Homo sapiens: one gene and its partners. The protein of the gene in region 2 interacts with the protein of the main gene of each other region in a pairwise test. Each region holds a gene or a part of one and is shown on either strand. Other genes may lie near its edges. The genes, in order: PEF1, CFAP68, PROP1 and PLSCR4.

Region 1 (8,011 bases), on a different chromosome or scaffold from region 2:
AAAATCCTCAGCAAAGAGCCTGGAATGTGTGTCTTCTGAGATATTTTCACAGAGAAACGGATATTTAAACTGAGTTTCTCCCCATGGTAGGCTACATTATCGTCTCCTGGCTAATAATCTCTAGCCAGGAGACACAGTCTGCACACCCACAGACATTGTACTAATATGGTACAATGGTTTAAAAGGCCAGTTCAATAATCTATTATTAGATTACTTGCTAATCTCCCCTTCCCTATAAGAGCATTGTACATCCTCTCCCACTGCCTGGTGGCTTGCAGAGGGGCATCCTTTCCCATCCTACTGATGTCAGTCTTGATCAGGGGGTGCTCTGGCCAAAAGAATGCAAGTGGGCAAGACATACAGTACTTCAGAGAAGCTTTAAGAGGCATTGTGCATTCTTGCTAGCTCTCCTGCTCCTTCTCTCTGCCACAAAGATAACATATCCCAAACAGGAGCTGCTCCTTCAGCATGTATCCCTGAATGAAAAAGACACAGGGAACAGAAACTCAACAGCCAGCTAACAGCTGCTGACATGTAAGCAAAAGAAAGTAAGCATGAGCAAGCAATACAAATAAATGCTTGCAACAAAACTAGCTGACAAACTTATCATTTTGAGGATACACACTGAAGCTGGAAGCAAGATGCTAAGGTGCCAGAGACCAGGCTGCCTGCACACCCACAGGAAGGACAAAGGCTGGCCATGGATAACTCAGAACCACGTCAGAGGTACCCGGAGTCCAAGATTACTACTTACCCTGTCCATAAAGCCCAGGCTGCTGGGCACCGTAGGAACTTGGAGGTGGCTGACCATAGGGGCCCCCGGGAGCTGCACCGCCATATGGTCCTCCTGGAGTTCCAGAGGGGAACATCCCAGGATTGGGGTGTCCATAGGGCCCTCCACCAGCTGGTGGTCCATAAGGCCCTCCAGGGGCAGGACCCCCATAACCACCACCAGGGGGTAGCCCACTACCATACTGCCCTCCACTATTGGGGGGTCCAGGGTAGTAGCTACCCGGAGGGGCTCCTGGTGCTTGTCCTGCAGCTCCTGGGCAGCCCTGCAGGAAGAGCAAGATATCAGTCAGAATGATGAGGCCAGAAACTAGGCAGAGTATGGCACTTTACAACCATAAAGCACTTCCACCACCATCCTTTCAACTGATCCTATAGGTAGGGTTGGAATTATGATCTCACTGCTCAGATGGGCAAACTGAGGCTTCCAGAGGAGCAACGAGTTACCCAAAGTCACCCCGCCAATGACCTGCAGAGTCAGGGTTGAAATCCTCCTTTCCTAACTCTCCTTTCCTGCACATCAAGGGGCTCCACAAGGGCTAGGATCCTGTCTGGTTTGTCACTTTATCCCCAGCTCCCAGTGTAGAATGGATACTTGGTAAATATTTCCTGTATGAATGAATAGGCAAATGAATCAAACAGAATTCCAAATGCCCATCCTGTGGTACTCCCATCTCTATCTGCAGAACTCATGGGGCAAACGCAGTCTCTAACACACACCCCTGACCCTCATCAGTCACAAATGACATAGCTATAGCATGGATTCATCCACAGCATGTCTTCCTTACCCTGATGTAAAAACATTTCCCTATCCTCACTCACAACTCTGTGAGGCAGGCAGGGGAGACCCTATTCCTAAGGCAATACGATACAATGCTTTCAAAGGCCAGTTCAACAGCTAGGCGTGGTGGCTCACAGCTGTGTAATCACAGCACTTTGGAAGTCTGAGGCGGGCAGACTGCTTGAGCCCAGGAGTTAGAGACCAGCCTGGGCAACACAGAAAAACAACATCTCTACTAAAAACCTGGGCAACATAGAAAAACTACATCTCTATTTAAAAAATACAAAAATTAGCCAGGTGTGGTGGCGCACACCTATAGTCCCAATGACTCAGGAGGCTAAGGTGGGAGGATCACCTGAGCCTGGGGAGGTCGAGGCTACAGTGAGCCATGATCACACAACTGTACTCCAGCCTGGGTGACAGAGTAAGATCCGATCTCAAAACAAACAAACAAACAAAAAACAACCAGTTCAAGAGTTCAAGTTCAGGTTCTGCCATTTACTAACTGGACTGACTTATCCTCTCTAAGCCTCAACATCTTCTGCTATAAAATGGGAATAATAATAGCTACCTCTCAGGTTAGTTTGTGAATGAAATGAGGCCAGCTATGTGAAGCCCTTTGACATTGGGCCTGACACAAATTAAGCACTCAATAAACACTATTAATAATAGCCTCCTACAGAGGACAAGACTCAAGTCCAGGAAAGTCACACACAGGCTGTGTGGAGGGGCTGGGACCAGAACCTGGGTCTCTTGGCTCTATGTCCAGGGCATTTGTGCATTAGAGCATACATGGGGGCATTCCCTCTCTCATCCATCTTCCCACACCAGTAGCCCTCGGAGTGTTCCGCTCCATCTCCCTAAATGGCTAGCACAGGACCCAGCAGAGCACAGCCCCAACACATCTGCAGACAAGCTGAGCTCAAGGGCACAGACAGCAGCTAGGCCCAGCTCCGAGAACGGCACCATCTAGATACGTTCTAGATCAACCTGTAAGTGCACCAGTGGCCAAGCCACTGAGAGCCTGGGCTTTCTCTTTTTATTGTGTTTGATAGCTTGAAATAATTACTCTTAAGGCTAAGGCCAAATTCATGAGGTTTTTTTGTGGGGAGGGCAGGAAGCAGGCCCTGTCACCCACTCAGCAATCCTTGGGAGCTTTTCTACCCTAGAAGCTGTCATAGCTACTAGCAAGACTCCTTCACAGACAAGAATGGCTCACACAGATCTCAATTTAAAACTCTGCTCCCATCAGCTAAGTTCATGACTGTGGGCCCGTGGCTTCATCTCTCTGAGCCTGCTTCCTCACAAATAGAACAATTCCTTCCTCACTGGACTGTTCTGCAGATTATAAAAAATAAATGCAGCAAAATTCTGTCAGTTTAATTTTTAGCTAAAGAATCCTTTGATAACCAACCTGGGCAACATAGTAAGATCCCACCTCTACAAAAAATTTTTAAAAATCAGCCGGGCATGGTGGTACACATGTAGTCCCTGCTACTCGGGAGGCTAAAGCGGAAGGATCACTTGAGCCTAAGTTGGAGGCTGCAGTGAGCTGTGATTGTGCCACAACACTCCAGCCTGAGTAACAGAGGGAGACCCTGTCTCCAAAAAAAAAAAAAAAAAAAAAAAAGAGAGAGAGAAAGAAAGAATCCTTTGATAAAATAAATAAAACAAATACAAGAAAGTTGCTCTGGCTGAAGTAAGGTGGGAGCTCCAGAGCCCCTACAATATGGAACCCCCTCCCTTGCTACATTCTGAGGGGGCTCTGAAAACCCCTCACAGTGACTGAAAAGACAGTCTGAAAACCACTCACATAAGAAAAATAGTTTTTACAACAGTGCCTGGCATAAAGCAAATGATCAGTAAGTCATAGCTGCTATTGCTATATTAATTACTGTTATCAGCAAAGTCCTGGGCCAGGTGAACTGTGCGGGGTGGGGTATAAAGGAGAGTGAAGCAATCTGAAGGCACTCACAGTTAACAAGACTTAACATGTAGACACTGTGTAACGTCTAACAAAACAGCATAAGGAAAACAGGTGTTTGAAATGGAGACATAAGTCATGTGCCATAGGACTGCAAAGGAAGGAGGGTAAAATCAGGGAGTGTTTCCATGAGAGTGGCATTTGAGCTAGGACTTAGAGAACGAACAGGATTCCCAAGGGGTTGGAGAGGTGTGACAAGAGAAATACCCAGAAGACAAGTCACTTAACCTAACCCCCATTTTACAGATGGGGGAGGGAGGGAGGGACTTGCCCAAGTAATGCTGTGAGCTGGAGGAAGAGACAAGGCTGGACCACTCCCTTGCACCCAATGACTCCCCCTGCCTCCTGCTACAACACTCCTTCATTAAGCAATAGGGCTCAGGATTCCAGCATAGGATGGAAAGGGAGTGGGAACTCTGCAGAATCTGGGCACACCCAAAGAACAGGCCAGACACGAAGCCAGAAGTAGCTGCCCCACTATAAGCCCTGTGAGCAAAGCTATAAACCGCACCTGGCACCTAGGAAAACCCACCTAGGAAACCACCTATAAACCACCTAGGAAACATCCCCAGGCCAACAAAGCAGGTGCTGCCAGGCAGGTCTCCTGCCCTTCTGGCTATTGTAGTCTGGCAGCAATTAAACCCTTTCCTTTCTGTCCTGCATTTGAAGACCTCCTCTGTAGTTTACAAAGTACTTTCACAAACACAAACACTACAGGCAGAATCTTGCCAATGGCCTCCTAACAGAAAAAAGGAAGATGTTAGTTGCCCTCTTTTACAGATGAAGAAACTAAGCCACGGAGCTGTTAAAGGACTTCATTCAGCACGCATTTTCAGAGTGACAATATTGTACTAGGCTCTGTAGTAGATCTGAGGACACAAGTAAATGAAGTCCTGCCCTTAAGGGGCCCACAGATAATTGTGATACAATCTGATCAGTGCCATCAGAAAAATCTACTTATGTGCTATCAAGGAAGCTTAGATGGAGGAATTTGTGCTGTTTGCAGAATGAATAAATGAACAATGTATGAAGTGGGTCAAGGAAAGCTTCCTGGAGGAAGTGGCAGTGATATTGGAAATGGTCCTTGAAGGATGCATAGACATTTTCCAAAAGGCAGGCAGGGAAGGACACTCCAGACAGAAGAGAGAAGAAAGACAAACGCACAGACTTAAGAGTGAGCATAGTGCATTCAGGGAATGAGTTAAACCGCAGAGCCAAGAATGCAGTGTGAACCCAGAAAGGCAGGCCCTCTATACACTCGTTGACCAAGCACCTCTCCCCCTGCATTTCAGTTAGCCGTGAGGTATCAGTGTCTAAGAGTAGTTTCTGTCTAGCATCTCCCCCACCCAACAGTAAGCTCCCCAGGGGCAGACACTGCGCCTCACTCATCATGGCACCCCAGGGCCCAGCACAGTGCCTGGCACCTGCAAGCCTCCACAAATATTTGGACAAATGAACACCACTCTAAAGAGTTTTGTTGGGGCTTTATGCCGGAGAAAACAGAGCACTATAGAAGGGTTTCCAATAGGAGAGGAACGTGATGAGAACCTTGTTTAGAGAAGTAACCAGCGGCGGTGTGGAGGATGAGCCAGTGAGGGAGGCAGTAGCCCAGGTGCTGGGCAGGCAGGGCATGAACCAGACAGCACACTTGGGGATGAAGAGAACGGAATGGATTCTGAAGCTATTTCAGAGATAGACCAGACATGACTTGGTGACTAATTAGATTAGGAAAGAGATGGAGGAGGAGTGAGGAAAGTGTTCAGAATGACTCGGGTTTCTAGCTTTTGCACAAGATGAAGGAGGTGGAGCCAACTGAGACAGAATGCAGGCTGCACAGGAAGTTTGGGGAAGAAGATGAGGTGGTCCCCACCTCACAGAGGGTCACCCAGTGTCACTGAGTTGTTAGCAAAGGTCTGAACCAGAAATGAAAAACAGCATCCCTGACTCCACGTTCTTTTACACTACTCCATGCTCCCAGCCCTTTTTAGAGTTTTTCCAAGAGTTATTTCATACTGATAAACAGGATTGTGAAGGCAGGTGGAGGGGAAGGACAGGAAGAGTTCAGTAACTGCAGCTTCTGAAGCAACACAGAAAAACTATCTCTAGGGCTCTGGCTGATTGCAAATAAGCTACATCTGATGCCCTGGGGGGACTGGGGGCAACAAACATTTACTGAGGCTCTGCTAGGTGCTTCCAGTTCAACCAGCTCTCACTAATCCTCAGTCCTGTGAGGTAAACAGTGTCATCTCCATTTTGCAGATGAGAAAATTAAGGGGCAGAGAGTTTAATAACATGCCTGAGATCATGCAGCTAGAATGGGCAAGTTGGGATTCAAGTCAGGGTCTGCATGACTCTACACTACCCCCTTCTGTTTGTTCACTCAATAAATGAGTGAGTGCCTAGCATGTGTCTGTGTGAGGGACTGTGCTAAATGTCTTTGTCAAATATAATGAATTTCTACTGTGGACAGAGGTAGAGGGGAAGGCTGGATTGGGTGATCTCTCAGAGCCTTCAAGCCCAGAAATCAGGGACTCTTAGAAAAATCTCATTCTTTTTCGTCCCAGCACCTAGAGTCACTTTGAGAGCCAAGCCACATTTTGGAAGACACCCCAAAGACTCTTCAGTTCAACCTCTCAGTTAATAATGGAATCTCTGCAGAACCACCTGGAATCTCTACCTGCACTTGCGCAAGCAGTAGGGAGCTTACCTCCTCCCAAATAACCACCTCAGAAAGTCCGGTATTTTTTTTTTCTTTCCAGTTCTGAGGACTCAAGTCTTCTAACCTCAAGACCCCTGTGAAGCTTAAAGGTATCAACGGCTGTTCCAAGCTGAGCCCTGATGACGAATGGAGGAGGGAGCATTGCAAAGACAAGTTTGTACCCCAGAGCTACCCTTCAAGTGCACAGGAGGAGGTGGGAAGCCCAAACTAAGGGGTTAAACAATCACAGGAAGACAAGAGGAACAGTTCAAGCATTCACCAGCAGAGCCACTTGAAATAGGAGAGAAGCACGCAACCAATAAACAATGAGCCAAGAACCATCCCCAGACTTCAATTACCTCTGTGCTCACACTTTCAAATCTTTCCAGCTTCATCACTCCTGAGCTACAGACCCACATATCCAGCAGCCTACTGGACCTTCCCTCCAAACCCATGCCTCCCTGTGTTCTCATCTCAGTGAATGGAGCTCCGTTCTGCTTAATCATCCAAACCTAAGGCCAAGTTTTCTCAAATCTACCTCCCAAGTGCTTCTCAAATCTCCTCTACCAGGTCACAGTTCTCTTTAGCCTAGATTACCTCAATAGCGTCAAAACCGGTATCCCTGCCTCCTGTCTCTCCTGCTTCAATCCATTCTCACAGCACCCCACAGTAAGCACTCCAAAGCACAAATGGGACAAAACACTTCACTGGCTCCCTCACTACTCTTAGGATGAAGTCACACTCCCCAAAAAGGCATACAAGGCCCTTTGGGATCTGGCCCTTGCTTACCTTTCTAGTCTTATTTCCTACCCCTTTCCCCCACATCACTACAACTACACTGAACTTCTTAAAGTTCCTCCAAAATACTAGGCTGTCTTACCTGCTTCATGGGCTTTGTGCAGCTATTTCCTCTGCTGGAATAGCATTCCTTTCTTCACTCAGCTAATTTCTACCAGTGATTCAGTTGTTGGCTTAAATATCACCTCTTTTAAAAATGCACCCCTAGACTGAGTTAGGTATCTCACTCTCCCGTGCTGTACCTTACACTTACTCCCATTGAATACTTATCACATTGCCTCTTCAATCTGCATAACTGCATTACTCCTCCACTTGGAGTATTCTACATGCCCAACACCATACCTAGCACTTTACGTGGATTTTCTCATTTAATCTTTAGAGTAATTCTGAGGTAGATACTATTATGACCCCATTCTAAAGAAGGGAAAACTAGTCCAGGCGTGGTGGCTCACGCCTGTAATCCCAACACTGTGGGAGGCTGAGGCAGGTGGATCACCTGAGGTTAGGAGTTTGAGACCAGCCTGGCCAACATGGCGAAACCCCGTCTCTACTAAAAATACAAAAAATTAGCCAGGTGTGGTGGCGTGCGCCTGTAATTCCAGCTACTTGGGAGGCTGAGGCAGGAGAACTGCTTGAACCCGGGAGACGGAGGTTGCAGTGAGCCAAGATTGTGCCATTGCACTCCAGCCTGGGCGACAGAGCAAGACTCTGTCTTAAAAATAAACAAATAAATAAAAAATTTTTTTCAAAAAAGGGAAAACTGAGTCTCAGACTTTTGCAACAAACTTCTGCAAGGGAGTGACAAAGCAGGGATTTGAAATCAACTCTCTCTGGCCTCAAAAACTAAGCTCTTAAGCACTGAAATCCACCAAGCTCGTTCCCCCATAGGACCAAAGGGTGCTTGAATTTTACTACTCCAATACCCAGTCCCTGCTTGGGTACCCTGGACTGGAAGCAGTGG
Region 2 (4,946 bases):
TGTTTTATAGGTACAGAGTTTTAGTTCGGGATGATGAGAAAGTTCTGGAAATTGATAGTGGTGATGGTTGCACAACATTGTGAACATTGCACAACATTGTGAAAATACTTAATGCCACTAAATTACACACTTAAAAATAGCTATAATGGGCCACACATGGTGGCTTATGCTTGTAATCCCAGCACTTTGGGAGGCTGAGGCAGGTGGACTGCTTGAAGTCAGGAGTTTGAGTCCAGCCTGGGCAATATGGTGAAACCCTGTCTCTATGAACAACAACAACAAAAAAGCTAAAATGGTAAATTTTATGTTATGTGTGTGTATATATATACATACATATATATATATATATATATATATATATATATATATATATATATATATGTATAGGTTTTTTTTTTTGAGACAGTCTCGCTCTGTCGCCCAGGCTGGAGTGCAATAGCATGATACTGACTCACTACAACCTCTGCCTCCTGGGTTCAAGAGATTCTCCTGCCTCAGCCTCTGGAGTAGCTGGGATTACAGGTGCCTGCCACCACGCCCAGCTAATTTTTGTATTTTTAGTAGAGACAAAGTTTCACCACATTGGCCAGACTGCTCTCAAACTCGTGACCTCAAGTGATCCGCCAGCCTCGGCCTCCCAAAGTGTTGGGAGTACAGGCATGAGCCACTGCGCCCAGCCATGTTATGTATATTTTACCTCAATTTTAAAAATGTGCTAGATACATAGGAAATAGAATAAGACATACGATATGTAAACTTAAAATATGTGTCTATAAAACAATATTTGTATTGTAAGAACATACAAATAAATTATTAGAATTAATGAGAACTCAAATTCTAAAACTGACCTAATGATGCAATACCGTTTCAATCAATATCCTAACAGTGTCATTTTATGGAGCAAGCTGATTCTAAATTTTATATGGAAATGCAAAAGTTCAAACATAGCTAATATTCTTGAAGAAAACAAGACGAAAGCATTTGATCTATTAGGTATTAAGATATAAAATAATAATAATGTAATAAAATTATCATAATTAAGATGGTGCAATTAAGGCATCATAACTAAGATAATACAAGGAATGACAATTAAACTAATAGAACATAGTAGCCCAGAAACAGACCTACATGTACATAGTTTATTTACAATAAAAATGGCATTGAATAGGAGTGAAAAAATTATGGTCTTTTCAATAACTAATGGTGGGACAACTTGATAGCCATTTAGAAAAAAAAAAGAAACTTCCTCACTACTGAGTAACAACATAAATTCTGGATCTATATCTCGAAACTAAAGTAACAAAGGTTTGAGAGGTAATATATGGGAGATAAAAAATATCTCCTTGCTTACGAGGACAACATATGGGCAGTATCTCTCAGTAATGCCCATATATTATAGTGTCTTCTTACACAGTAGATAAAAAAATAGGAAATACTAATCAGTTTAACCATATTAAAATTAAGACTGTTGATTTCCTAAGTTTACCAAACCTAAGCTATTCACAACCCTTTCTCAGTCTCTACTAGTTCCCTATTTTGACTCATTTTAAACCAGTTGGACCCTTATCTCAAATCCTTATAAATACCTTACTCTAACATCCTCCCTTTGAATCATTACCAAGACTCTGTGTCAAGTTGATGGTCTCCTTTGCTACACTACAATAGGTTTAATGAGCTTTGTTTAGTCAACAGGTTTCCTTAGTGACCTTTGTTGGGGGGGAGTAGACAATTGACAGTCCTTATCTTTTTGAGAAATATACTGAAATCTTTAAAAAAATTTTTTTTGGTAGAGATGGGGTCTTGCTATGTTGCCCAGGCTGGTTTTGAACTCCCAGCCTCAAGCTATCCTCCTGCCTCAGCCTCCCAAAGTGCTGGGATTAGGTGTGAGCCACTGTGCCCAGCCAGTATACCAAGATTTTTTTTTTCTTTTTCTTTTCTTTTTTTTTTTTGAGACGGAGTTTCGCTCTTGTCGCCCAGGCTGGAGAGCAATGGCACCGTCTCAGCTCACTGCAACCTCTGCTTCCTGGGTTCAAGCAATTCTCCTGCCTCAGCCTCCCAAGTAGCTGGGATTACAGGCGCCCGCCACCAAGACCAGCTAATTTTTGTATTTTTAGAAGAGATGGAGTTTCACCACATTGGCCAGGCTGGTCTTGGACTCCTGACCTCAGGTGATCCACCCACCTCAGCCTCCCAAAGTGCTGGGATTACAGGCATGAGCCACCGCACCCAGCCCACCAAGATTTTTATAGATTAAATTCTATTTCTAAGATCTGCTCCAAAATTAATTCAATAAGACAAAGTAGAAGTAGGTAAGATTAGTCATAAATAGTTGATGCTGGGTAATGATACATGGGAGTTCATTAGACTAGCCTGTCTACTTTTGTTTTACGTAAAATTCTCCATAATAATTTTAAAAAGTTACGTTTGTTTTTGTAGTCCTCAAGAGGGGATGTTCACTAAGGTCACAGCAAAGTTGCACTATACGACTCTGGCTTATACCCAGAAAGCATCTAGCCAAACCTAGCCTAAGTTATGCTAGATTCTGAGGTCTTGCTACGACAGAAGGAAGGGAAGACCACAGTGGTTGTAGACTTCAGAGAAATAATTCTTTTTTTTTTTTTTTTTTTGAGACAGAGTCTCGCTCTGTCACCCAGGCTAAAGTGCAGTGGCATGATCTCAGCTCACCACAACCTCCACTTCTCAGGTTCAAGCGATTCCCCTGCCTCAGCCTCCTGAGTAGCTGGGATTACAGGCGTGAGCCACCATGCTCAGCTAATTTTTGTGTTTTTAGTAGAGACAGTGTTTCACCATGTTGGTCAGGCTGGTCTCGAACTCCTGACCTCACGTGATCCACCTGCCTCGGCCTCCCAAAGTGCTGGGATTACAGGCATGAGCCACCGTGCCTGGCCTAAAATAATTCTTTTTAAGGCCCTTCTACAACACCCCAAATGTAGAACTGAGTTGCTGTATTAAATTTGACATTTAAATCTTGGTTAAAACAACAACAAAAAAAGGGATAAAGAATATTTACTGTGTTTTTTGCTTTATTTATTCAGAGAGTGAAACTGTGTTACAGTGAGCTAAATTTTTAGCTGTACTTAGAATGTGCTCCCTCCTACATTTCACTCTGGAAAAGTGAAGTATCTTATCATTTCTTAGAAACCTGGATGTGAAACTAGTCAATATTAAGATCTTATACACATCCTGAGTGATGCCCAATTTAAGGCTTTGAATAGCTATTCATGTAAGTTGACTTTTCTGTGCATTTGTATCGGGGAGGATCCAGTTCAGGTTGATGTCCTGGGAACCAGTGAGGCTCTCGCTTAAATCCTGAGGGAAGAAAAAAAAAGGAAGGAAAGACAAATGAAAACAGTCAACACTAAGGAGTTTTAGTAACTGATCTTGCTCTTATTTCTAGGGAATAGACAGTAAGTCCTGTTAAAATTGAAGAAAAAATCCTGTTTACTCATTCATGTAGTTATTCACCTTTTTTTTCTTTTTTTTTTTTGAGATAGAGTCTCACTCTGTCACCCAGGCAGGAGTGCAGTGGCTTGATTTCTGCTCACTGAAACCTCCACCTCTCGGGTTCAGGTGATTCTCCTGCCTCAGCCTCCTGAGTAGCTGGGACTACAGGCATGCGCCACCAAGCCCAGCTAATTTTTGTATTTTTTTTAGTAGAGATGGGGTTTCACCACGCTGGCCAGGCTGGTCTCAAACTCCTGACCTCAAGTGATCTGCCTGCCTCAGCCTCACAAAGTGCTGGGGTTACAGGTGTGAGCCACTGCGCCCAGCCTCACTTATTCACCTATTCAGTTTACTTTTATTTGAGTTCCTTCTATGTGCCGGTCACTGAGTTAGGTTCTGAAAATGTAAGAATTTGAAAAAACAGTCCACGTACTATGTGTTGAAAGTGGCATTTTGTTGTTGTAGCTTGTATCATATGTTGTTTCAAAGTAGTGTCCAAACTGGAAAGAAAAATTAACAGATTAAGAATCTGGAAGTCTACAGCTAACATCAGGAAATAAAGATCAATATGACATGAATTCTCACGGACTGTCATATTTTAGATGGACTGAGTTCTATGGTGTTAGTCTATATCCTTCTAACTTTCACATGTTTTGTACGTTTGTTTGTTTAGGAGCGATTTAAGTGCAAGACTCAGATAAATGACAAGTCTAGATAGGCAAGGACCAGGGGAAAAGCTAGTCTAAGTCAGAAGACATTATAAATTTCTGTAGACTAAGAGATAAAGTCCAAACAGAAGTAAGAGAAAAAGAGGACTGCCCTTCCTTTTGAAACCTTACAGATAATAAAATATTCAACTTGACAGTAAAGTAGCATAGGTGGTTCAGCTGCGGACTGTTCCTCTGCCCCAACCACTTCACTGAAAACTGAGAGATCACTGCACCAGAAGTTATTACATCCCTGCATTTCAAATGGCCACTACATTTCTTTTGCCAACAGAAGGAAACAAACAAACAAAAAAGACAAAGTTAGATTACCTGGGAAGGCAAGGGTTTGGGCTGCACGATATTCCTCAGGTCATATCTTTCCTGGTTCCAGTTGCCCATCAGGGTACGGTTTGAATAGGTATTCTCATTAGTGGTGCATCGCCATCCATACTGGAAAAACTTGGACATATTATTCCAATCTGTCCACACTTCACCATGGCCATCTGCATTAACAAGGCTGCCACAGTGTGGGTTTGTGAGGAAACAGGCGAGGTTCTGTCTCTGGGAAAAGACAAGAATAGAAAAGCTTATTGCATAAACCAGAGAAGAGAAAAAGCATCTTTTCCTGCCCTTGTTTTACATAGCCAGGTATAACACAAGCACACCGTACTAATGATCCAGGCTATGTTATGGTTCTGTTTCTTCTTCTCTAAGTCCTGGGACCCTTTGATCCATTCTTTCAATCAGCAACAGTGGGTGACTACATGGATTAAA
Region 3 (8,269 bases), on a different chromosome or scaffold from region 2:
CATGTGCCCTTTTCTAACACTCGGGGCAAGTAAGAAGTGTCAGCTTCCACCAAGGAGATAAATATGGTGACAATGACATTTCCCTTCCCCAGAGAATGGGAAATTTCCCCTAGGGTTAAGTTTAACGATTAAGACTGTAGATAAATGTAATTGCTATAGACAAGCTTGAATTTAGGGTAGGGTTTACACTTAAGGCTAACCAACCCTGGGGTTAGGATTGAGGGAGCATTTGGCTCATTGAGTTTCAAGGCTATGGTTAGGGACAAGCTTCTGTAAGAATATGGACAGTTAGGATTGAACTTCTGTTGGAATTGGCATCACTATTTTTTTTTTTTTGAGACAAAGTTTTGTTCTTGTTGCCCAGGCTGGAGTGCAGTGGCATGATCTTGGCTCACTGCAACCTCCACCTCCCGGGTTCAAGTGATTCTCCTGCCTCAGCCTCCGGAGTAGCTGGGATTAATTATAGGCACCTGCCACTATGCCTGGCTAATTTTTTGTATTTTTAGCAGAGATGGGGTTTCACCATGTTAACCAGGCTGGTCTCGAACTCTTAACCTCAGGTGATCCATCCAGCTTGGCCTCCCAAAGTGCTGGGATTACAGGTGTGAGCTATTGTGCCCAGCCGGAATTGGCATCACTATTAAATATTGAGGGTAGGTGTTGAAATTCAAGTTAGATTAGCTTATAGCTAGGGTTAAACTCAAGTGATATGATATTCTCAATGCAGTTGCTCTGATGCTGGTGGTGAGATGAGGCCTGTGTCTGGTGACCATTTAGGTTAGGGTTATAATGCCCAACATTCTATGATAGCACCAAAGAAATCTGCATTTCTTTCCTGAGAGAGGAGGATCCTGGAGCATCACCTGGATTCGGGCCTCACTGAGGCCAGTGTCCCGGGCAAGACTCTCTCGGGCCCAGATGTCGGGGTACTGGTTCCTCCCAAAGGCTGACTCCAGCTGTTCCAACTGCACTGGGCTGAAGGTGGTGCGGTGGCGGCGCCGGGAGTGCGGGCGGCCCCTCTGTCCTCCTTGCGGGGAGAACCTTGATCTCCCCCCTCCTGCACCAGGGAGCCTTCTGCAGGGTGGAGCACTCGAGTCTGAGAACGGAGAGAAGGGAGGGGCGGCTTCTGAGGAGGACGCTCCTCGGTGCTGGACCACATGTGCCTGTCCCGGGATTGCGCTCAGTGCGTCCTGTGCTGCTCCAGTCTTTTTTTGAGACAGAGTCTTGCTCTGTCTCCCAGACTGGAGTGCAGTGGTGTGATCACAGCTCACTGCAGCCTCGAACCCCTGGGCTCCAGTGATCCTACTGCCTTAGCCTCCTGAGTAGCTGGGACTACAGGTGCACACCAACATACCCAGCTAATTAAAAAAATAAAAAATTAGAGATGGGGTCTTGCTATCTTGCCCAGGCTGGTCTCAAACTCCTGGCCTCAAGCAGTCCTCCCATGTCAGCCTCTCAAAGTGCTGGGATTATAGGCCTGAGCCACCGCACCCAGCCCTGCCCCACCGGGAATCTTTTAGCTGCCATAGCCTGGTTCCTGCACCCTGCTCAGCCTCGGCCCCTGGTTGCCTCTGAGTCTCTGACACCAGGCTGTGCTGTCTACACAGGGCACACCCTCAGACTCATTCCTGGCCCTGGCACTCATGCACTGTCTACCTGGCAACTCTACTGTCTGCCCACTTCCTATTGCACTGCCAGACACATACCCCTCCATGTACGTTCACCCTTCTGGACACACACGACCACCTGGGGCTCACCCTGTGGGTCTGCTGTGTGCACCTGCACCCTAACAATCGTCCCAGCTGTCTACGGAAGACCCTAGTGCTTGTCCCCTGCTGGCGAGGCTCCTGTTCAACCTGTGCCTTCTTCAGACTGCTGCCATCTCCCGCACCCCTCACCTGGGAAGATGGGCACCCCCCTCTTCCGCTCAGACACACCCTCCCCTACTTACTTTTCATCTCCTCCCTACCCCTGCCCTGGCCCAGCCACCAGGCTGCAGGAACTTGAGCTCGTGGGAAAGGCTTGCCTTCCTCCCCACAGGCTCCCTAAGCCCCCACACTAATTAGTCTGAGAGCTGTTGGGGAGGAGAGAACGGGGAGGGAAAGGACACACCTGGAAGGCGCACACCAAGAAAAGATGTCTGGAGCCGAGGCACCATCCCCATGGGGCCCAAGGGCGTGGACCCTCCTAGAGCTCACTGTCCACCATGGGGGACACACACACGGAGCCCGCCCTCCCGCCCTGGACCCAAAGCCCTGGCCCCTCCAGCTCCCTTCATCAGAGAAGGCAGTGGCTTGGGCTAACCAACTCTGAGGTCAGGAGTGAGGGGACAGAGGTAACTGTCTCACATCCCCACTGCAATGTGAGCTGTTCAGCCGCCCCCTCCTGCCAAGGGCTCAGTTCCCCAGTCTGTAAAGCCAAGGGGTGCTCCAGTCCCTTTTACTTTCAAAGGTTCCCACAGTTTTAACATGATAGGATTCGGGTTTTAATTTCTCCTCCTAACCTTCTTCATGGAGCCTATGCTTTCAGCCTCACACCCGCTGCCTCCTCAGGGACCCACGCACACCGGGACGGTCACTCACCCACCGTGGTGGTCGGGGTCCCAGTGGCCGGGTGTCTCTCAGGCAACAGGTTGCTGCCGACTCGCCCCTTCTTTGGCTTCTCAGCCTGGCGCCTCCTTTCTGCTTCCATGGCTCGCCACGGGGACCAAGTGTCCCTGAATCTCTGACTTGAGATTTCTCTGCTTCCGCAGCTCCTCTCCACACCTGTTCCCTCCCCTTCTCCCTCTGTGTATGCCACCCTCTGGGACTCTGTCTCTGAATGTGTGTGTAGGTGCAGGCAGCTGTCTCTGACTTTTTCACTGTCTTTACTTTTTTTCTAATTGTTTCCTAATTCCCCCTTCCTTGGCTTGAGTGTCAGCTCAATCTCCTGCCTCAGCCTCACCTGTTGCTCTGTTTCTGACTACTTTTCTCTGCCTGGCCCTTCTCCCCACCGGGATGCTGCTCCCTTCTGTCAGCTGCCTACTTTCCCATCCCACCCCTGAGTCTTGGAGGAGTGACCTCCTCCTCGCCCCTGTGGGCCCATCCAATCACTACACGGTCACCAGAGCCCCCTTGCTCAGGGAGGATCACAAGCCGGATGAGGGAAGGTGTTCTGTCGGAGGGTCCAGGGACTGGGGCCAAGGGCTCGTATTCCCAGAGGACCGGATTCTTTTGTCCTGTTAAATCCCCTCCTGGGAGCAGGCAGGGGGAGGAGGAGAAAATGCATTCCTCCCGAGACCCCCTCCTCACAACCCCACTGTGGGGAGAGGAACGAAGAGCAGGGGAAAGGGACCCAGGAGTGGAGCCTGCCTGGCGTCTCAGCATGGGGGTGACACTCAAGGATCTGCTTCCAGGAAACTAAAAAAGGAGAAGTCACAAGTGCATGCTGGCCCCTCTCAGATACCCTGATAGTTCAGAACACACCAGCCAGTGCTCAGGCCAACCTGAACCCACTCCGGAGAATGGGCCTCCAGGACACCTTAGCTCTCAAGTACTTTCTGATTTCCTCCCTCAAACACCACTTCCTCATTCACCCAGAACCCCCAGGACACCATGACCTTCCAAGGTCACCCAGACTCTCCGAAAACCCTGACCTGAACATCTGCATTCCAGCTGCATCCTGACCCCCAAACCCACTCCAGACTCCAGGACTTGGAAAGAGACTGAGATTCCCGTGACATACTACATTCTGATTCTTCAAGAAAATCCTGACACCGGGAATCTCTGAGCAGTCAGGACAGCCTGGTCCCACAGTACTCTGCCCCTTGAGGTTACTTAGACCTGGGAAGTACATTCTGACATCCCCAGGACACTCTGACAGTTTAAGGATGATGCAACAGCCCAGGACCTTAGGATCCCCTGGGACACGCTGACACCCAGAACACTTCACCTCTGCTTCTCAGGATACACTGACCCAGTGAGAACACATGGACCCCCTGGAACACACTGTACCCACAGGACAGTCTGATTCCCAGGGTCATGCCGTCATACAGGTCCTTTAAAAACACGCTGGTGATTCAAGACAGGAAATCAGAATCCTTTAGGATTTCGATGCTTACCGTGTGGTCCATGGATCAGCAGCAGCAGCAGCACCAGCAATGGGAGCATGTTGGAAATGCAGATCCCTGGGCCCCACCTCCATTCTACTGAGTCACAATCTGCCTTGTATCAAGATCTCCAGGAGAACCGAGTGCACGTGGGTCTTAGTCAGCTGGGGCTGCCATGACAAAATAGCATAGACTGTGTGGTTTAAACAATAGACTTCTATTGCTCACAGTTCTGGAGGCTGGGAAGTCTAAGATCAAGGGGTCCGCCTATTTGGCTCCCCTGTGAGGGCTCTCTTCCTGGCTTGCAGGTGGCTGCCTTCTCTCGGTGCCTTCATATGGTGGAGAAAGAACCAGCTCTGGTTTCTTTTCCTCTGCTTGTAAGGACACTAATCCCATCATGGGGCCTCACCCTCATGAGCTCATCTAAACCTAATCACCTCCCCAAATCCCCACCTTCAAATACCATCACGTTGGGTGTTAGGACTTCAACGTAGAAATTTTGGAGGGACACAAACGTTTAGTCCATAGCAACGTAAAATTGGGAAACACTGCTCTAATTTTAACCCTTCTCCCCTACCCTAGGACACACTTTGACCTCCTGGAGCACCCTGAACCCCATGGCAGTCCTAACCTAGCAAGACCCAGTGACATGCAGTCAGCTTGGACTCACAAGAGAACACTGAATTACAATGCATCCTGCTGCCTGGGGTACCCATTCTGGCCCTGTCAGGTCCTTGAATGCTGAGGGCACTGAGGATGCATTCACTCTCCAGGACACACAGACCCTCCAAGAGGCTCTGACCTCTGTACCTTACACTCAGCACAACATCTTGGGCTCACAATCACTCTGTGACCCTCTAAGTCACCCAGACCATGAGGACATGGTGAGATTTGGGAAATTCTAACCTTTTAAGGAATTCCTGACCTTACAGAATCTAGACCGTCAAGGGCATCTTGTCTTCCTGCCTGTTCAGAGCCCCCAATTTGCTTGAATCTTGCAAAGTGCTGTTGACACTGAAAAACCACTCAACATGCCAACCCCAACCCAGGAAATACCCTGACCACACTAGCCTGATCCATAGGATATTTTGACGAAGAAAAGACATATCCAGGTCTCCCAAAGCACTCTGACCATCCAACATGCCTTTGACACAGGGGATGTCTTAATGCCAGGGCTCTCCAACCTTCCAGTGTACTCTGGTTGTCTCAGCCCTAGAGTTGTCAGTAGGCACCCTAGTCACTGTCACTCTCCCACTCTCCCAATACACAGACAGCCCAGCACAGCTTCAACACACTAGGACCCCCTGAATCCAAAAGGTGATTATTCTAACTCTTGAGATTCTGTCCTCTCAAGGCAACTATTCCCTGCAAGACCCTCTGTAGAATACACATTCCCAGAACTACCGGAACATCTTCACCTCTACCATACTCTCACCCCTCTGTAGAATACACATCCCAGAACTGCCAGGACACCTTCACTCTGCCATACTGTCACCCCTCTGTAGAATACACATTCCCAGAACTGCCAGGACATCTTCACTTCTGCCATACTCTCACCCCTCTGTAGAATACACATCCCAGAACTGCCAGGACACCTTCATTCTGCCATACTCTCACCCCTCTGTAGAATACACATCCCAGAACTGCCAGGACACCTCCACTCTGCCATACTCTCACCCCTCTGTAGAATACACATCCCAGAACTGCCAGGACACCTTCACTTCTGCCATACTCTCACCCCTCTGTAGAATACACATCCCAGAACTGCCAGGACACCTTCACTCTGCCATACTCTCACCCGTCTGTAGAATACACATCCCAGAACTGCCAGGACACCTTCACTCTGCCATACTCTCACCCGTCTGTAGAATACACATCCCAGAACTGCCAGGACACCTTCACTCTGCCATACTCTCACCCGTCTGTAGAATACACATCCCAGAACTGCCAGGACACCTTCACTCTGCCATACTCTCACCCCTGCCTAGCACACTGTGCTCATCCAGGACCCTCTGATTTCCTGAAAATGCTTTGATTGCACAAGAATACCTTGGCACTCTACTCCATGACAGATCCATTCAAGTCTACCCAAACCTTCAAGGACCACCTGAGCTCCAGAAAACCTTGATCTCCCGCATTCAAATACCAAAAGTATATGCTGACCTACCTGAAAACCTTCACAGCTCTGGACTCCCAGAACATCCAGGAGCCTCTGAATCACGCAGCCAGACCAACCTCCAAAACATCCTAACTCCATGCAAGTGGTGTGATCTTCCAGGACAGTCTGACCTCGAAGCTGGTGATGTTGTAAGGATACTTCAAGTGTTCTGACATGATGAAAATGCCTGTAGGCCCAGAACACCTGCCTGCCCTGACGCCCTGTCTCTCCAATACCCCTGCCTTCCCAATACCCCTGCCTTCCCAAGATGCTCCAAGTCTCCCAGACTCTCTGACTTTCACCATTAAGATCTCATCTGATCCTATGTGATCTCTTTGGATCCTCTTAACACCCTGTTCCCCAGGGTCCTCTGACCTTTTAAAATCCTACAAGATGCCGGGCACGGTGGCTCACGCCTGTAATCCCAGCACTTTGGGAGGCTGAGGCAGGCAGATAGCTTGAGATCAGGAGTTCAAGACTAGCCTGGCCAACATGGTGAAACCCTGTCTCTACTAAAAATACAAAAACATTAGCCAGGCACAGTGGCACGTGCCTGTAGTCCCAACTATTCAGGAGGCTGAGGCTGGAGAATCGCTTGAACCTGGGAGGCGGAGATTGCAGTGAGCCGAGATCACGCCACTCACTGCACTCCAGCCTGGGCAACAGAGCGAGACTCTGTCAAAAAAAAAATCCTACAATACACTTGGAACCTACATGGGCATGCTTATCATCCAGAAACAAGGCAAACCCACAGGACACTACTCTGACCATACAAGGATGCCCTGAGTCTCCAGTGGATCAGATCTCTATGAGGACACACTGATTCCCCTGAACACCATAAATCCTAGCTTACTTTGAGCATATGAACACCCTACCTTCTAGGTTATTTGACCCTAGAGGATTACGTGTGTGTGTGTGTGTATACGCACATACATATATGTATACACCTTTTTTGAGACAGGGCCTTGCCCTGTCACCCAGGCTGGAGTGCAGTGGTGTCATCATAACACACTGCAGCCTCAAACTCCTGGACTCAAGTGATTCTTTCACCTCAGCCTCCTGAATGGCTGGGACTACAGGTGCGCACCACCATATCCAGCTAATTTTTGTATGTTTTTGTACAGACACAGTCTCACTACAATGCCCAGAGGAATATCTTACTGTACCAAGTGACTCTGATTCCTAGAGCATTTTAGCCATCCAAAGTTACTTAGACCTTCCAGTGCCTCTGACACCTCAGGAAACTCCACCCCCATCCGGACACCCTCCCTATCTAGTCCACTGTGATGCTGCAGAAAAGTTATTGAATAGTAAAGAAATTCTGTGGGAAGAGTGTCCCTTAAGGATACTCTGATCCTAGAAGAACATCCTGCAAGTCGGGTTGTCTGAATTCAAATTCTAGAACCAGCCCTTGCTTGCTGTGTGACCACAGCAAGCAATTTCATCACTTTAAGCCTTACCTTCCTCATTCGCAAAATGAGCACAATACTAGAACTTTCCTTCTGTGTTTGAGCAGGTATGAAGAATGCCCTATGAAGACTCTATCAAAGAAAGGAATTCAAGTTTTTGTTTAGCTCATCTGTTCAGAAAAGACAATGTAAAGATACTAGTATATTGAACAAAAGGAAATATATAAGACATACGAGTAGAATGACGTCCTAAAAGGCTAAGGTTTACACCTTAGCAAAAAGAAGAGAATAAGAATAGGCTCATAGTAAATAATTCATCACATCAACCAATAAAAAACCATATGATTATCTAGCATTTGATAAAACTCAACACTTATTCTTTTTTTTTTTTTTTTTTTTTGAGATAGGGTCTCAGTCTGTTGCCCAGGCTAGAGTGCAGTGGCACAGTCTGGGCTCACTGCAACTTCTGCCTCCTGGGTTCAAGTGATTTGCCTCCCTCAGCCTCCTGAGTAGCTGGGACTACAGGTGCCTGCCACCAGACCCGGCTAATTTTTGTATTTTTAGTAAAGACAGGGTTTCACCATGTTGGCCAGGCTAGTCTCAAACTCCTGACTT
Region 4 (8,011 bases), on a different chromosome or scaffold from region 2:
GGAAATATGTCCAAAACATAAAGTTAAAACACAAAATGAAACAACAAGTTGAAACACTGTGTGTGTGTGTGTGTGTCTGTGTGTGTGTAGTGTAGTAATTATATTTTTGTAAATAATTTGGAATATAGGCTGAATTATATTGTGAGTAGTGATGTTTTACACACAGCCGAATTATATTATTATGAGTAGTGATGTTGTTTTACACATTTCTATAATGTATGCGTGTGTATAAGGAAAAATTGATAGTGATAGTAATTTATACAGAACATTGCCTTCTTGAATATATTAGCTGTCATTTACTACAGAAGAAATATATTTCACAAAACCTTTCATATTGTCTCATTTTTTTTCTTTTATAAGTGTCCTCTTTCAGCTGCTTCCTTTAAAATCCCCTTCCTTAATATTGATGTTTATGATGTTTATTGCAAGAACAGCAGTGAAGAATTTTGCTTGAGGGATTTCACAACCAGTTAACTTTTATAAACAAAAAATACAGCAATGTTCATACTCATATGTTCACCAGCATTGTGCTAAAATTCATTTTTATAGTACTCATTCTTCAGGATGAAAGAGATAGATATGCTAGTCCTTAAAAAGAAAAACATCTAAAGTTGGAAAAAAATTGTTTTTAATTGCATGGTAAGGCTGGGTGGCGGTAGCTCACGCCCGTTATCACAGTACTTTGAGAGGCAGGGGTGGGCAGATTGTTTTAGCCCAGGAGTTTGAGAGCAGCCTGGGAAACATGGCGATACCCCACCTCTAAAAAAATTTAAAAATTAGCCAGGCATGGTGGCACCCACCTGTAGTGCCAGCTGCTCAGGAGGCTGAGGTAGGACAATTGATTGAGCCTGGGAGGTCAAGGCTGCAGTGAGCCATTATCATGCCACTGCACTCCAGCATGGGCAACAGAAAGAGACCCTGCCTCAAAAATAAAACTGCATGACAAAAATGCAGTGAAGACAAATGATAAGTTTTGAAAAGATAATTTTAATATAAAATTTTAATACCTTTCATATAAAGAAGACAAATGAAAAGCTAACAAAAATGAACAAATGACAAACAGGCAGTTCACAGAAATAGAGTTGCAAATTGCTTTCAAACAAATAATAAAAGTGGCTCAGCCTCCTCATTATGAGATATATGGAAAATAAAACCAATTTTTTTTTTTTATATATCAGATTGACTACTACAAAAATGTTGATAAAATACTGTATTAGGAATGTAACTTTTTGTCTGGGGTCTAAATTGATTCAAATTCTTTAGAGTGCAGTTTGATAGTATCTTTAAAAATGTACAAAACTTTGATCCATCAGTTCTGCTTCCAATAATTTAATGCACAGATCCACAGGAAGAAAATATTTTTTTCAGCATTTTTGGTAATAGCCTAAATTTGGAAACGATTTAACTTGTTGTCATTAGGCAGCCAGTTAAATACATTATGTTGCAGCCATTAAAAAGAATGAGGTTATATGGACTGAAATGTAATTAACATCAAGACATTTTAATAAATGAAAAGAAAAAGACACAGAAAAGTATATAGATGATTGCCATTTTATAAAAACTGTGTGTATTAGTTTATATATGCTTAGAAAATCTATTGGAGGAAAAAAAATCTAATGTCTGTGGTTGCCTTTTCAAATGGGAAATGGGAATTGGAGTAGGTGGGATTTTTTTGTATAAATGTATTGTGTAAATGTATGCACTGCCGACTCCTTGAATTATATTTGTGTTTGTTTGCACATAACATCTGTTTTTTAAAAGTCTGTTTTCATAAATGTAAAGTTTCTTATCAAAGTGACTTAACTGTATGCAACATGACATCTTGTTTTACTACAATTTTAAATACTAAAAGACTAGCTGTAAAATGACACAATGAGGCGTTCTTGGTAATCATAGTTGGCATGGTAATGTTTCCTTAATGTCTTATATAAACATCATGAGAATATTGTTCTGATATTTTTCTACTCTAAATAACAAAAACATTTCCCTTTTGAAAGCTAAAAAGGAGACACCTGATATTCTCTTTAAACAATTTGAACTAAATTAATATATTTAATAAAGGTTATGTATGGACTGTGGCTATCAATTTGCTTTCATTTAATCTTATCTTTTATTTTATATTAAAGCCAAATAGCTAACCTCCAAGATCCTTCACACTTGCTAAAAAGAATGAAATATTCTACCATACACTTTTTCTTTTGAAGGAGTCATGATGTTAATAAAATAATAAATATATTGATATAGGTTATAAAAACAACACAATAAAAATCTTAGGTTTTGCCCTTGTAATTTGTTGAACATTAATCACTCCCTAAGTTTCTTCTAGAATTGATTTTATGCAAAGATACAATTAAATACATATATGTTAACATGTAATTATAATGAAGATACTGTGTATCTATGGGACATTCCTGCTGCAGCATATTTTATCAACATGGACCTAGGTTTATCTTTTGTGCAAGCCTGGAATTCGTTTCTCTAATTTCAGCCCATGTGACAGAAACTTACTAAGTTTACAAGATGTCTACAGAAATGACTGAATCCTTCAGTCATTGGACTTTAATCCACTCATATTGAGCCCACTGAACTATCCAGTTCCCTATAGCCAAGAAACCCATAAAAGTAATTAACACAGTCCACCATAGGAGCCAAGAAATTTGGCTTAAAGTCTATAAAGAGGATTGTACTTGGAAAGGTGTGCATAATATTTCCTCTTTGATGAACATGCAGGTCTTTTTAGTTACAGATTCACTACAAGAGAGTACATTGTCAGGTTTTAAAAATTATTTTAAAAACTCAGTTTATATAATTTATTATACATTTATTGTAGAAAATTTAAAGAGGAAATGTTTATATCTTAGCATGTTTCCTCCAGTTTCCATATTTTTTAAAAACATTGCTATCATTATAATTATCCAGATTATATGTTTAACATTTGAATGTAAACATTTAATGATTTTTACAAAACTGTTACTATATTTTTAAAGGAAAATTATTTTATCATAATGTTTCATGATAATGTGTTTACTTAACAATTGTGCTTGATATTTATGTAGTTTACAATCACTACTATTTTCGTTTTGCATTCCTTCTGTGAAAATGAGAATGTATCACTTAAAAATATTATATGGCATATTTTGGATTTATTTTGAATTTGGTATAGAGGAAATTTACTTGGGTTTACAAATGAGATTTGAGAAAAAATAGATATGTCTTATATTGGTAAACTGAACATTTGATTGAATGTATTATGATTCCTACAGCAGATAGGTTTTTATCTGAATGGGGTAAAATTTCATAGATCTGTAACTGAGGGGGTGTGTGTTGGGGCCAGGAGGGGATATATTAAAATCATCTGGGAAATGGCTTCCATTTTCTTTCCTTATCCATAGAAGCAATGATCCTTTTAAGCTTTATCATGAGACTGCAACAATTCGGTAACATCTTCATGCTTCACTTCTAACTCTTAGTTCTCTTGCTATTCTCTCACATCTGCAGGTACTTCATCCAATGAAGTCTTGAACCACGCAAAATCATCCAGGAGGGTTGGAATCAACTTCTTCCAAGCTCCTGTTAATATTTATATTTTGACTTCCTCCCATGAATAACAAAAGTTCTTAGTGGTATCTAAAATGGTGAATCCTTTTTAGAAAGTTTTCAATTTACGTTGCCTAGATTCATCAGAGGAATCTAGGCCTAGCTTTTGGCCTGTCTTTGCTTTCAGCATGCCTTCCTCATTAAGCTTAATCTTTTCCAGCTTTTTGACTTAAAGTGAGAGATGCACGAACCTTCTTTTCACTTGAATATTTAGAGGCATTTGTAGGCTTATTAATTGGCCTAATTTCAATATTGTTTTGTCTCAGGGAATAGGGAGGTCCTAGAATAAGGGGAGAGATGGGAGAATAGTTGCTCTGTGGAGCAGTCACAACAACACTTACTAAGTTCACCATCTTATATAGGCATGGTTCATGGGGTCCCAAAACAATTATAATAGTAACATCAAAGATCACTGATCATAGATCACCATAACAGATTGTTATGAAAAAGTCTGAAATATTGTGAGAATTACCAAAATTTGACAAAGAGACAAACTGAGAAGTTGCTGTTCTGCAAAATGGCACTGATAGACTCCTTGATACAAGGATGCCACAAACCCTCAATTTGTTTAAAAAAATGGAGTATCTGTGAATCACAGTATAGCAAAGCACAGTAAAACAAGGCATGCATGTACATAATGAGGTATCTTGAGAATGGGACCCAAGTAAACATGAAATTCATGTTCCATTATGTTTTAAACATATAGCCTGAAGATAATTTTATACAATATTTTTGATAATGTTGTGTATGAAACGTTTACGTACGTTGAACCATCAGAAAGCAAAGGTATCAGTATCTCAATCACCCATGTGGACAATCTGTGGTTATTTGACGTCACCATCATTCCTGACTCTAAATTCATTATGCTACTGATAAGTAATCATTTTCTTACATTACTCACAAATAAGTGCTTAACAGTAAAAAATAGGATGTATCATTAGTACAGTGAAAAGAGAATGCGTTCAGGGTAACTAAGCAGCACAGTAGTATCTCCAGAATGCCTGTGTCGGAAAGCCACCAATAAGCAATGGCAGGCTTTCATTCTTTACCTACAATGCTGTATTTTGATTACAAGGTTATCATTCACTGAATTTTATTATTTTAAGTGAGAAGAAATATCAGAAGTAGCCAAGTGACCAGCAAGTGTTTTCTCTACAAATGAGGAAGCATTCTGATGGATGACTTTTCAGAATGTTTCCTCTGGAGTCCGCTGTCTCATTAACAATGGTTTTTGTCTTAGAAGTCTCTGTTGATTTTACAGACTGACACAATTTCTTATTCTGTGATGAATGAATGCTCTTAGAGTCCTTCAGTAAACCCATCACATATTTTCACCATGTCATCTATAGGCACTTTGCAGTTTTAACAGTGTCCTCATCATCTTTCACTTGTGACATCATGTTGGTGCTGAAAGTTTTGGATTTTTGAGCATTTCAGATTTTGGACTTTTGGATTAGGGTTGCTTAGTCTATACAGCATTTTATGTGCCCGAACTCTGCATGAATATTATAATCTTTTCTTAAAGTTAGAGATTGGTTCATCCTTTTTGTTCATTTCTTTGTTTTCAAGAATAAATGACAACACAGTTTTTGTTTTGCTTTCTATTTTTTTGTTTTTCAAGAGTTTTGGAGCATAGTCAGGATCATGATGATAAGAAAGAGATGTATATATGTAACAAACCTGCATGTTGTGCACATGTACCCTAAAACTTAAAGTATAATAAAAAAAAAGATGTATACAGTTGGTAGAGCATATTGTTAGCAGGAGTTTGAGAAGAGGGGTTTCAGTCAATTGAGAGATCCCCATGGAAGAAGCAGGATGAAATACAGATAACAGAACTAATTCTTACAAATTTTTTTTCTGAAAATGGTCCAAGTGTCAATTAGGAACTTTCCAGGTTTGATTTGAAACCCCCACCACAGAATTTGTTTTTCCTCCCTGAGAGATTGATGGGTTACTGTTTTGGGATTAAAGCCTTTGGGGGCTTTCTCTGGTGGAGAAATAGTTCAGACAAAAGGTAGTGGATCCATTAGATGGCTAATATAAAAGTGGACAATGTATTTTCCAGTTGCATGAGTGTTTACCATAAAGGCAGACATCTTGGGGCATAGGGTTCTTTATTTTGGGATCCTCTTGGGCCCTGTAGCCTTTACAACTGTAAAGACATAAACCTGTTTGCCTTTCGTAAGGAATTTTCCCACTGTAGCCATTCTAAGTTACTTTTGCTAAGGTTCTCCCATTCGTCTCGAAAAGCACAGGTTCTGGGTCTCTGGTTTTTATACATGAAGTTGGCTAGAATTCCAGAGGGCGAAGCTCTAGCAACCTTTGACCAGATAAACCCATGATTCTATGTCTTTTATTAACCTTTCCTACCTACTAACTGAGTTGAGTTTATGTCTGACCCAGTCAAATACCTGAGGCCTCCCTACTGGGCCCAGTCCTGTTGTTGGCATGACTTTGAAACCCAGTGTAGATCAAAAATGCTCAAACTCAGCTCAAATCAGAAGTTCATGAAGCTTAGATTCAAAAATCTCACCCATGACCCCAGTTGCTGCGAAAGAGCAGTGAGTACACTGGGCATGCTGGGTACCTTAACTTGGTCACTCAGTGCTCCTGGGATCACTGGAAGTTTGCTTCAAGATCTGACTTCTCATGTGAAACTCTTAAAAGAAAAACTTTAGGCAAATTCAGCAGAGTTTATCTGAGCGAAAAACGATTCATGAATCAGGCAGCCCTCAGAACCAGAAGAGTTTCAGAGAGCTCCACCGAGCAACATGGGCAGGCAGTATTCATAAACAGAGGAAAGAAGTGACGTACATAAATCAGTTGATTGGATCCAGCCTGGTATTTGCTTTATTTGGTCATGGTGTGATGAGGCATTTGCCTTCAACGGACATGGTCTGATCAGTTGACAGCCCGTGATTGGCTGAAGCTCCACTACCATCATTGGCTGAGACTCAGCTACTTGTTACAAGAATACAACCTCAAATCAAGTTGCAGTCTGCTATTTACAGAGGCAGCTTTAGGCCCAATTTAATTTATCAGGTTATGATTTAGATTACGTAGAAATGTGTTGTTTTATTTTTATGTGGTTAGAGAATTTCCTGTTATCTTGCGGTTAGTAATTCCTAGCTCATTACATTATGGTCGGAGAACAAGCTGTATTATTTTAATTTTTTTGTAATATTTTAAGATTTGTTTTATGAGCCAGAATGTGGTCTGTCTGGGTGAATGTTCCGTACGTTGAAAATAATGGTTATTCTAATGCTGTTGGGTGGGTGTCCTACAAATGTCAGTGTTGGTTGATGATGCTGTCTAGTTGTGCCAATATCATTGCTGATTTTTCCTCTGCTTGTTCTTGTAGATTACTAAGAATGGAGTGTAAAAGTCCTCAACTGTAACTGTGGATTTCTCTTTATTTTTTTCAATTTTGCCAGTTTTTCCTTCATGTATTTTGAAGCTCCATTGTTAGGATCAGTCATGCTTAGGATTGCTGTATCTTGTTAAGAAATTGTCTCTTACTTTTAAGTGATAGCCCTTCTTATCTCTGGTAATTTTCTTTGCTCTGAAATCTACTTGTGAGATATTAGTATAACCACTCCAGCTTTCTTTTTCTCTGTAATGACTTTGTTGAGACATAATTCACATACCATAAAATTCACCCATTCAAAGTGTACAGTTGAGTGATTTTTAGTATATTCAGAGTTGTGAAGCTATCACCACAATCTAATGTTAGAATAATTTCATAATTCCAAAAAGAAACCCATGCCCAATAACAGTCATTTCCCATCTTCTTGAAGCCACAAATCTACTTTATGCCTTTATAAACTTGCCTATTCTGGATAGTTCACATCAGTAGAATCATGTACTATATGGTTTTTTTGGTGACTGACTTCTTTCTAGTAGTGTAATGTTTTCAAGGTTCATCCAGGATATAGCATGTATAGCCATACAAAATTACTTTGTATGGCTGAGTCATATTTCATTGTAGGGATATTTAAAAATTGATCAGTTTACCGATTGATGGATATTTGAATTGTTTCTATTTGTTGGCTATTATGTGTAATGCTATTATGAACATGTTTTTGTGAAGGCATTTATTTTCATTTCTCTTAGGTATATACCTAGAAAGAAATTACTAGAGGACATGGTTAACTGTATTAACCATAATGAAACTCTATGTTTAATCTTTTGAGGAACTGCCAGACTGATTTTCAAAGCAGCTTTAACATTTTACATTCCTCAGCGACATATGAAGGTTTCGATATCTACATATCTCTCCTAAAACGTGTTGTTATATTTTTTATTATAGTCATCTTACTAGGTGTGAAGAGTATCTAATTGTAGTTTTGTTGTTATTTTTCAAGAGACAGGATCTTGCTCTGTCACCCAGGCCAGTATGCAGACACAGTCA

The links.
Region 1: the proteins of CFAP68 (region 2) and PEF1 interact in binary tests that used the Homo sapiens proteins (3 or more experiments, as listed by UniProt).
Region 3: the proteins of CFAP68 (region 2) and PROP1 interact in binary tests that used the Homo sapiens proteins (3 or more experiments, as listed by UniProt).
Region 4: the proteins of CFAP68 (region 2) and PLSCR4 interact in binary tests that used the Homo sapiens proteins (3 or more experiments, as listed by UniProt).

The regions. Positions count from the first base shown.
Region 1 is NC_000001.11:31,634,468-31,642,478, forward strand, and holds part of PEF1 (peflin), read right to left. Parts: exon of another isoform or gene 7,142-8,011; coding exon of another isoform or gene 7,133-7,141; intron 1,056-7,132; coding exon 755-1,055; intron 477-754; coding exon of another isoform or gene 379-476; exon of another isoform or gene 199-378; intron 26-198; exon of another isoform or gene 1-25. UniProt on the Homo sapiens protein: Calcium-binding protein that acts as an adapter that bridges unrelated proteins or stabilizes weak protein-protein complexes in response to calcium.
Region 2 is NC_000011.10:111,882,155-111,887,100, reverse strand, and holds the end of CFAP68 (cilia- and flagella-associated protein 68), read right to left. Parts: intron 4,734-4,946; coding exon 4,503-4,733; intron 3,966-4,502; coding exon 3,899-3,965; intron 3,331-3,898; coding exon 3,221-3,330; 3' UTR 1,126-3,220; downstream 1-1,125. UniProt on the Homo sapiens protein: Microtubule inner protein (MIP) part of the dynein-decorated doublet microtubules (DMTs) in cilia axoneme, which is required for motile cilia beating.
Region 3 is NC_000005.10:177,993,243-178,001,511, forward strand, and holds the start of PROP1 (homeobox protein prophet of Pit-1), read right to left. Parts: upstream 3,001-8,269; 5' UTR 2,692-3,000; coding exon 2,583-2,691; intron 1,097-2,582; coding exon 864-1,096; intron 1-863. UniProt on the Homo sapiens protein: Possibly involved in the ontogenesis of pituitary gonadotropes, as well as somatotropes, lactotropes and caudomedial thyrotropes.
Region 4 is NC_000003.12:146,240,555-146,248,565, reverse strand, and holds part of PLSCR4 (phospholipid scramblase 4), read left to right. Parts: intron 1-8,011. UniProt on the Homo sapiens protein: Catalyzes metal ion-induced ATP-independent rapid bidirectional and non-specific movement of phospholipids (lipid scrambling or lipid flip-flop) between the inner and outer leaflet of the plasma membrane and participates in the redistribution of phospholipids between membrane leaflets.